Regions from separate parts of the Homo sapiens genome. Here region 1 is linked to region 2. Evidence: fine-mapped expression QTL. A gene starts in region 2. The other region holds a variant in brackets. All regions are shown on one strand. Distances are between the middles of the regions.

Region 1 (4,391 bases), 88 kb before region 2:
CTCATCCAGGATGGTCTCATCTCAAGATCCTTAACTCTATTACATCTGCAAAGACCTTACCTCCAAATAAGTCACATTCACGGGTTCTGGAACAGGGACCTATCTTTAGGGACCACCATTCAGCCCCCTACAGGAAACAGCCAGTGTATAACCTGCTGGTCTGCACACTCATTCATCCGTCAGCAAGTCTTGTTGAACATTTACTACCTGCAGGCATGGTACTACGTGTTAGGTTTTGTTTTGTTTTGTTTTGTTTGTTTGTTTGAGACGGAGTCTCGGTCTATTGCCCAGGCTGGAGTGCAATGGCGTCATCTGGGCTCACTGCAACCTCTGCCTCCTGGATTCAAGTGGTTCTCCTGCCTCAGTCTCCCGAGTAGCTGGGACCCACCAGCTACTCAGTGCCCAACAGGCACCCACTACCACGCCTGGCTAATTTTTGTATTTTTTAGTAGAGACAGGGTTTCACCATATTGGCCAGGCTAGTCTCGAACTCCTGACCTCGTTGATCCACCTGCCTCGGCCTCCCAAAGTGCTGGGATTACAGGTGTAAGCCACTGTGCCTGGCCTAGTGTTAGGTTTTTTAAAGGGGAGGTGAGGGTTAAGGAAAGACACACACACACAGAGAGAGTGGCGGCTCTACAGGAAACGCAGGTATATTGTAAAAACCTGCGGAGGTGGGGGACCAGCTTGATGCCAGAGCCCACCACCGCTTACAGGCTGGGGTACTTATAGGTATGGGTGGGAGGGGTCTGGGCAATATGGCTTGCTGCCTGGCAGGATATTGATAAGATCATGGGGGTGTTGCTTGCACTTTCTCCCAGCAGAATATGATAAGAGGCAGGCTGTTTCTCACAGCCCAAATCCCCGTGGAATGTTTCACTTTCACCAGGGTCTGCGCAGTGGCAGGGGGCTTACGAAACGGTGCAGCTGGACTCACACTAGGGACCAGGTGGACAGACAGAGGGATCAAGTCAGACGCGGTGCCCACCCATCCAGCCGACATGCTGGCTGAACTCACTCCATCTGCAGAGACGAGGGAAGGAGGGCCGGGAGTTCAGGAGTTCATTAAGCGCTGCGGGGCGCTTAATCCAGGGGCCAAGCCACAAACATTTATTGAGCACCACTGTATGCCAGCCCCTGATTCAGGGGTGGCAGAGACACGTACTCTCCCCCACCCTCCACCTCCCCACTCACCCCTGCATCCTGAAGCTCACGTCACTGCAGAGAAGCCAGGCATCTCCACTGATGTGGCCAGTTTTCACGTATGTGTTGGCTTTTACTAGAAAATAGCCACAGCTCATTATTCTACTTCGGCTGGGATAAGGGCTCCTGTCTCTCAACCCCTCCACCCCAAGTACCTCTTCCTTTCCTCAGCCCCAATACTTGACACTCTCCTGCTATCAAGGAGCAAGAGGATGCCAGGGAGTGTCACCTCCCCCCCTCAAGTCCCTGGCTGACCCACGCCTGGTTCTGCGCCTCCTCCTGATGATGTTGATGTCTCAGCTCCTAGCTGGCCAAGCTCCCGACTGTGGGCTAGGTCCCCTCTCCTCTCGACACCTCCCCAGGAAATCATTCCTGCAGCTGCGGCCTCTCCCACGCATCAGGAGTCCCCTGTCCACTGAATCACTATCCTCGAATACAGCACACAATCACGTCGTTCCAGTAAATGGAGAGATCAGCCTCCCTGTCATTTCTCTGTTCCCCTACCCCACCCATGACCACACATTCCTTCGAATGTCACCTGCACTCTCTCAGGGGTCCCTGCAGCTGAGCATCTCCCC[A/C]CCGGGAGGGGTCCTCTGGGGCCATCTCCCTAACACACGCCCCACCTCCAACCCTTATCCCTTTGCAACCCATCAGGGTTCCGCATAAAGGCCCCCATCAAGGCCGGGCACGGTGGCTCACACCTGTAATCCCAGTACTTTGGGAGGCCCAGGTGGGCGGATCACCTGAGGTCAGGAGTTCAAGACCAGCCGGGCCAACATACTGAAACCCTGTCTCTACTAAAAATACAAAAATTAGCTGGGCATGGTGGCGTGTACCTGTCATCCCAGCTACTGGAGAGGCTGAGGCAGGAGAATCATTTGAACCCAGGAGGCGGAGGTTGCAGTGAGCTGAGATCGCGCCACTGCACTCCAGCCTGGTGACGGAGCAAGACTCCGTGTCAAAAAAAAAAAAAAAGGCCCCCATCACAGCTCTCGCCATCACCCTCACAGGTGCCAGGCTGAAGCCACCTTGCTGTCCCTGCTCAGGGACCGTCTCTCCTGCAGAACGGCATCCACAGGTGCAAGGAGGGGCCTGTCTCTTTCTCTCCAGCACCCTGGTACCTGGAATAGCCCCTGACACACTGCGGGCCCTTGGGAAATGTCTGCAAGGGGCTCCCTGGTGACCCCCAAGAGGAAGCCAGGCGCCCTGAGGGCCTCTGAGCCCCACTGGACATCACCACCCTGTCCAGACACCCAGAGCAGAGTGGGGGATGGGGAAGGTGGCAGGTGGGGGACAATGGCCTGGGAAGACCCATCAGAAGTATAAGTACAAGGACCGTGGGACAGCAGCATGTGTCTGCACCCTCCTCTCTCAGAGCTTCGGGGCCCCTGGTCTCCCTTCCCCACAGAGCACTGCCCAAACACCCCTGAATCCACATGGAGTAGACCCGCGTCGTCCTGCAGCGGTCATGTGGGTGCACAGGTGACCCAGAGGCAGAGGCCAGGCTCCATGGCATTAGAAGGGGGTTCCCCAACAAGCTGGAGAGGGATCAGGCAGCCGGTGCCCAAGCCCGCCTGGGAAGGGCCTGACCCTGGTACCCAGCCACGTGCACGCACACTTCTCCTGCAGCCAGCACCCCGCTCCCTCACCTGGCTCCCCCCAGCTCCCCTTCCCACCTGAGTCCTACCCTCTGAGTCCCTCACCTTGTTAGACACACCCTGAGCTGTAGGGTAGGACTGCCTTTAACTGTGTGTTTCCTACCCACAACTGTGAGTTCGTGGTCATCGTTATATATGTGCTCGGTGTGTCCGTGTACATGGGTATACATATATGTGTGTTTACTGTGTATAGGTATATGTGCTGTGTATAGAGCTATGTGCTCTATGTGTATATATGTGCTACATATGTATATATGAATATATGCTATGTGTGATATGTATATATGTCTATGTGCATATGTGTGTGTGCACTATTATATATGTATATGTGTTTTTATATATATGGAATGTATGTATCTGGCACATAGTATGAGTTTGGTAAATGTTTAAATCTGTTTTAAACCTGAGGGGACATTTCCAATTATAGTGACCTGTGGAGATTGGTAACTCTGGGACATGGGTCTGTGCTCCCACCGTGGAGACCAAAAAATGTTGGAGAAAACACAATTCCCCTCCCGCCCCACCCAAATAAAATACTGAGTAGAAAGATGACAGACAGGAAGAGAAATCTTCAGGTGCCACAAATGAATCAGCAACCAGAGCTGACGCCGGGGGCCCAGGGTGCACCAGATGAGACACAGGCTCCAGGGGCTAGGGGTGGGAGGGCTAGAGGTTAGGAGGTGGTCTTGGAGTGCATCAAGTTGGGGAGGGAGTTTGAACAGGGGAACTTGCATGAGGCCAGGGCCCAGGGAGCTGCCCAGAGGAAGCAGTGTTCTGCCCAGGGTGCTGTTAGGAGCTCCACCCCACCTGTAACTGGGTGTGTGGATGTGTGGGCGTGCAGGTAGAGTTGGGCACCAATTTGAGTAGCTAGAGCCCCAAATTTGCACCATTCACAGGTGTAGGATCTGAATTTACTACCACTTGCATGATGCCAAATCTCCTAGCCAAGAAATCCATCAAAAACCTGGTCCTGGACCTGTGAAATCCTTTGAATATCCACAGAGGCCAATGCCAAATGCCTGGGTAGCAAAACCTTTATGACAACGTGGGGCTCTCACAAGAAAAAGTAATGATATCCCTGTAGAAGGAAACCGGTAATTGCAAACTTAAAAATAAAAAATAAAGAGCCAGTCACGATGGCTCACGCCTGTAATCCAGCACTTTGGGAGGCTGAGGTGGGCAGATCACTTGAGGTCAGGAGTTCAAGACCAGCCTGGCCAACACGGCAAAACCCCATCTCTACTAAAAATACAAAGATTAGCCGAGCATGGTGGCACATGCTTGTAATCCCAGCTACTTGGGAGGCTGAGGCAGGAGAATTGCTTGAACCCAGGAGGCGAAGTTTGCAGTGAGCCAAGATCATGGCCACTGCACCGGAGCCTGGGCAACATAGTGAGACTCAGTCTCAAAAAAGAAAAAAATTAGTAAGGATGAAGAGGACCACTACATAAAGGACACAGTTCCTCAGTGTTATCAAATAATCTTGGATTTGTAGTCACTTAACAAAGTTTCAAAATAGGTGGAAGACAA
Region 2 (4,360 bases):
TCGCCTGGGCTCAAAGGTGACCAGCAGCCGTCCGTACAGCCCAGTGCGCTGGCTGGATACCTGCAGCTTCAGCAAACACACGCCTCGGCTCTGGAGCTCTTTCAGAGAGATGTTCTCCTGCCAGGACCTGGAAGACACCCGGTATTGATGCTTCAGGATTTTTACTAGTTTCTACTTCCACCCACCCAGGAAAAGTAAAAGAGAAAGAAACATAGATAAAGATCTACTCACAGGCACTAAATATGTCCCAATGGAACTCCGAATTGGCTCCACTCCCAATCCCGCTCCTCCTACATCCCCCTAGGGCAGTTAATGCCACAACCCTTCTCTCAGTTACCTGAGACAGATCTTTCAATCAGCATTCCCCTCTCTCCTCCCATCTGTCACTAAGTCCTATCAGGCCCCTCCCATTTCTACCTGGACTTCTCTGCCTCTCATCCTGGCTGCCACAGCCCCGGTTCAAATCCACATCACTGCTCACCTGGACTAAACAGAGCCTCTCAACTACCTTACCTCTGGCCTCTCCACGTCCAATCAAAAGCAGGAGACCCAAGAAATCCTCCTAAAATGCAAAGCTATTCGCCTCCCTCACCTGCTTAACCCCGCTGATGGCCCATCCTTCATACACAGAACAGAAGACTAGCTCCTTAGCCAGGCCCTTCCCAGGCTCGCCCTGCCAGTCTGCTCAGCATCCTCAGAAAGAGCCACTGCCATGGGGGCTGACTCTGTCCTTGGCACCACGCTGAGCACCTGACTGACAGGGGATCGTTTCATTCTCAGAGCAAGCCTGTGAGGTGGGAATCATCCCAGTTTTACAGATGAAGTAAGTAAGGCTCAGAGACAGAACCTGCAAAGTCACACAGCCATAAATGAAACAGCTGGGATTCTAAGAAACTCAACATAACTGCAAAAGCTCTCCATTGCCATGATCAAAAGCATCTCAGACAAATCCTACCCACATATGGCTGACTGCAAACTCTGGAAGCAGACTGCCTGACAGCAAATCGGGCTACACTGTGTCACCCCGGGGCAAGTTACTTAACCCCTCTCTGTCTCCATCTCCTTAGACGGAAAATGACAGTAACAGAAACCTACACTGCGGCCGGGCACGGTGGCTCACGCCTGTAATCCCAACACTTTGGGAGGCCAAGGCGGGCAGACCACGAGGTCAGGAGATCGAGACCATCCTGGCCAACATGGTGAAACCCTGTCTCTACTAAAAATACAAAAAATTAGCAGGACGTGGTGGCGCGCCTGTAGTCCCAGCCACTCAGGAGGCTGAGGCAGGAGAATCGCTTGAACCCGGGAGATGGAAGCTGCAGTAAGCCGAGATCGTGCCACTGCACTCCAGCCTGGGCGACAGAGAGAGACTCTGTCTAAAAAAAAAAAAAAGAAAAAGAAAAAAAAGAAACTTACACTGTAGGGTTGGCATGGGATGAGGTGTAAAAGAATTAACGCATGGAAAGTACGTAAGTGTTAGCTCTGATTGTTTTGGACAAGTAAATAGTCCCATTCGGAAACAAGCCCGGCTCTCACATGGCTCCCCACACCTCTCAGGACGGCTCCCCACCCTACTCCGCACCCACCAGCTTAACTCCAATTTTCCTTCAGGCACCACTCCCTCCTTGAAGCCACCATGACCCTCCCCAGGGAAGGGCCTTCCTCCTCCAGGCTCTTTCCCCGCGACACGCACGCAGCCGGCCCTGGACGCACTGGAGGGGAAGGGACTCTCTGCTTATGCCCAGCCCGCCGCTGGCCGGATCGGGGGCAGCCAGTGCACCTGACTCATGCTGCCGGGGCCTGACTGAGAATGGGCGCAAACCATGTTTACTGAATGAATAAGGGAAAGGGCTGCTAACTCGCTGCGGGTGGAACTGGGGTCGGGGCCAGGGCCCAGGAGTGTAAGCTTAGTGGGGGGTCTCGGGTCGGGAAATCAAAGTGCTTCTTAAGGGTCCCCAAACGGAACGCGCTGCCCAGGAAGTGATGAGACTGACAACTCGGGAGGTGGCCAAGCAGGGGACGGACGATCCCTGCCCCTGACTCGAAGGGTCGGAGACGAAATTCCCGCCCCAGACTATGAGGCCGAGCCCCTCGGAGACTCTGCCCGGGACACGGCGGGACCGACCGCGAGGGAGCGGCGCCGGCGGCCTCCCGTACCTGCGCTCCTCCACCTCCGCGTCTCTCTCAAGCTCCAGCAGGTCCAGTTGCTTGGTCACGAAGCTCTCCACAGCTGCCGAGGCCATCGCCGCCGCCGGCCTGGGCCCCTAGAAGCCGACGTCCCGCTTCTGCGCCGGGCCGGTGTTACAGCGGACCGGTGTTCCCCGCCGGGCCCGTGCGTTACGCACGCGGTTCGCGTCGTTTCCGTTTCCGGCCGAGGCTGCGGCCATGGCAGCATCTTCCCTGACGGTCACCTTAGGGCGGCTGGCGTCCGCGTGCAGCCACAGCATCCTGAGACCTTCGGGGCCCGGAGCAGGTGAGACCTGGGATATGGGAGGAAGGGAGGACGCAGAGCGAGCGCTGCTCCCTGCGGTCTCGCCACGTATGTGCCTGGGTCCGACCTGGTGCCTTGTGTGTTGATCGCATTTGTGGTGAATATAGCACGGGTTTTGGAGTCGGGGGAACCCAGGTTCAGATTTTGATTCCTTCAGTTAGTAGCCTGAATACTGACAATAGCCCTTGAACTTTGGTATAGGCCCTATGTTATGGGGGAGAAGAGTGAGGCTCAGAGGAGCTAGGTAACGTGCCCAGGGTCACACAGCGGGGAAGTGGAAGAAGAGTACTTCAGGCGCAGTCATTTCGGCTCCAAAGCCTGTGCTTGAACCACTGCCCCCAGGCTGCGAGCTGGTCTGAAAAATGGTGATGGATATCCTCGCCTAATCTGAACTCATTCTGCAAAAGAAACAGCCGTATTTAAGGCGCTGGGCTGATACGAGGCTCCAAAAAGGTTATGTCCGTTAAAAACTCTATAAATCTCTGCTTGAAAATGGTTGGAGTGTGTATTTGTGTGCATGAGTGTTTATGTATGTTTTAAACCTGGGTTTCATGTCTCACCATGACCCCCAAAAATGGAAAACTGGATCTAACTCTATATTGGACGATATTAAAAGAATAGTACCATAATTCCCAAAACTTGGAAGCAACCCAGATGTCCTTCAGGAGATGAATGGTTACATAAACTGTAGGACATCCATACAGTAGAATATTATGCAGCAATAAAAAGAAATGAGTCATGAAGAGACATGGAGGAAACTTACATACATGTTACTAAGTAAAAGAAGCCAACCTGAAAAGGGGACATCTTGTATGTTTCCCACTATGACATTCTGGAAAAGGCAAATCTAAGGAGACAGTAAAAAGTTACATGGGGGGTAAGAGGATTGGGGGAGAAAAGGATAAATAGGTGGAGCTCAGAGGATTTTTAGGGCAGTGAAACTATTCTGTATGATATAATGGTAGATACATGTCATTATAAGTTTGTCCAAATCCATAGAATGTACACTACCAAGGGTGAACCCCTAATGTAGACTATGGACTTTGGATAACAATGATGTGTCAATGTAGGTTCATCAATTGTAAAGATTGTACCACTCTGGTGAGGGATGTTGATAGGAAGCTGTGGGCACATGGACAGGGGACATATGGGAACTCTCTGTACCTTCCACTCAATTTTGGTGTGAAACTAAAACTGTGCTAAAAAATAAAGTCTATTAAGAAATTAATAATAATCACAGAGTTGGGCCAGAGGCAATGTAGATGCCAAAATTGGCCATGAGTTGGTAACTGTTGAACCTGGAAAGGGATAATTGAGAGAGTTCACTATTCTGTTCTCTTTACTTTTGTATGCTTGACATTTTCCATAATAAAACTTAGGTTTAAGTAGGCAGGAAAGTTTTTACAAAAGCAGTGGGACTTACTCCATTCTACCTACCTACATGAAACCACCCCTCCAATGCTATGTTCAAGTACAGACTCACGCATTAGGAGAGAAAGACACACAGTGAAGCGAGTAGAGACAAGGTGACCAAAACAGTGAGCAGCTGGGGCCTTGAAGAGTGAGCAAAGGAGACGTGATGGAAGTACACAGTCACAGTCTCTAGGACTACCTAAAGGAAATCCTGTGGGAGAGGAAGGAGACTGTTTGTTCCCTGGGGACCCAAAAACAAAGCTAGAAGCAAATTAGGTACAGAAGCCTGCTAAGTTTTTAATAGTGGGATGGATTTGCCAATGGGTTGACTGAGTAGTGTGCGAGAGAAGAGTCAAAACTGATGGAGGTTTGGGGCCTGAGCAACTGGGAGGATGAAGTTGCCCTCATGTGAGAGGGAGGAGTGTGGGAGAAGCAGGCATGGGAAGAAATGAGGAG

Evidence for each region. PIP is the estimated chance that this variant, and not a neighbour inherited with it, causes the effect. A credible set is the group of variants that fine-mapping cannot tell apart.
Region 1: its variant is the best candidate, but not a certain one, in a credible set for the expression of IGHMBP2 in cerebellar hemisphere (GTEx, PIP 0.72).

The regions. Positions count from the first base shown.
Region 1 is chr11:68,989,564-68,993,954 of GRCh38, reverse strand. No RefSeq gene overlaps it. Among named protein-coding and RNA genes, the nearest start is that of MRGPRD, 11 kb to the right of the region's middle. The variant A/C (reference allele first, on the strand shown) is at 1,782.
Region 2 is chr11:68,901,836-68,906,195 of GRCh38, reverse strand. It overlaps IGHMBP2 (immunoglobulin mu DNA binding protein 2), which reads right to left and starts at 2,305. Exons shown (of 15, transcript NM_002180.3): 1 at 2,158-2,305; 2 at 1-127. The coding sequence starts at 2,243. MRPL21 (mitochondrial ribosomal protein L21) reads left to right here and starts at 2,364. Exons shown (of 7, transcript NM_181514.2): 1 at 2,364-2,473. The coding sequence starts at 2,386. RefSeq lists enhancers at 1,823-1,882, 2,213-2,332, 1,764-2,491.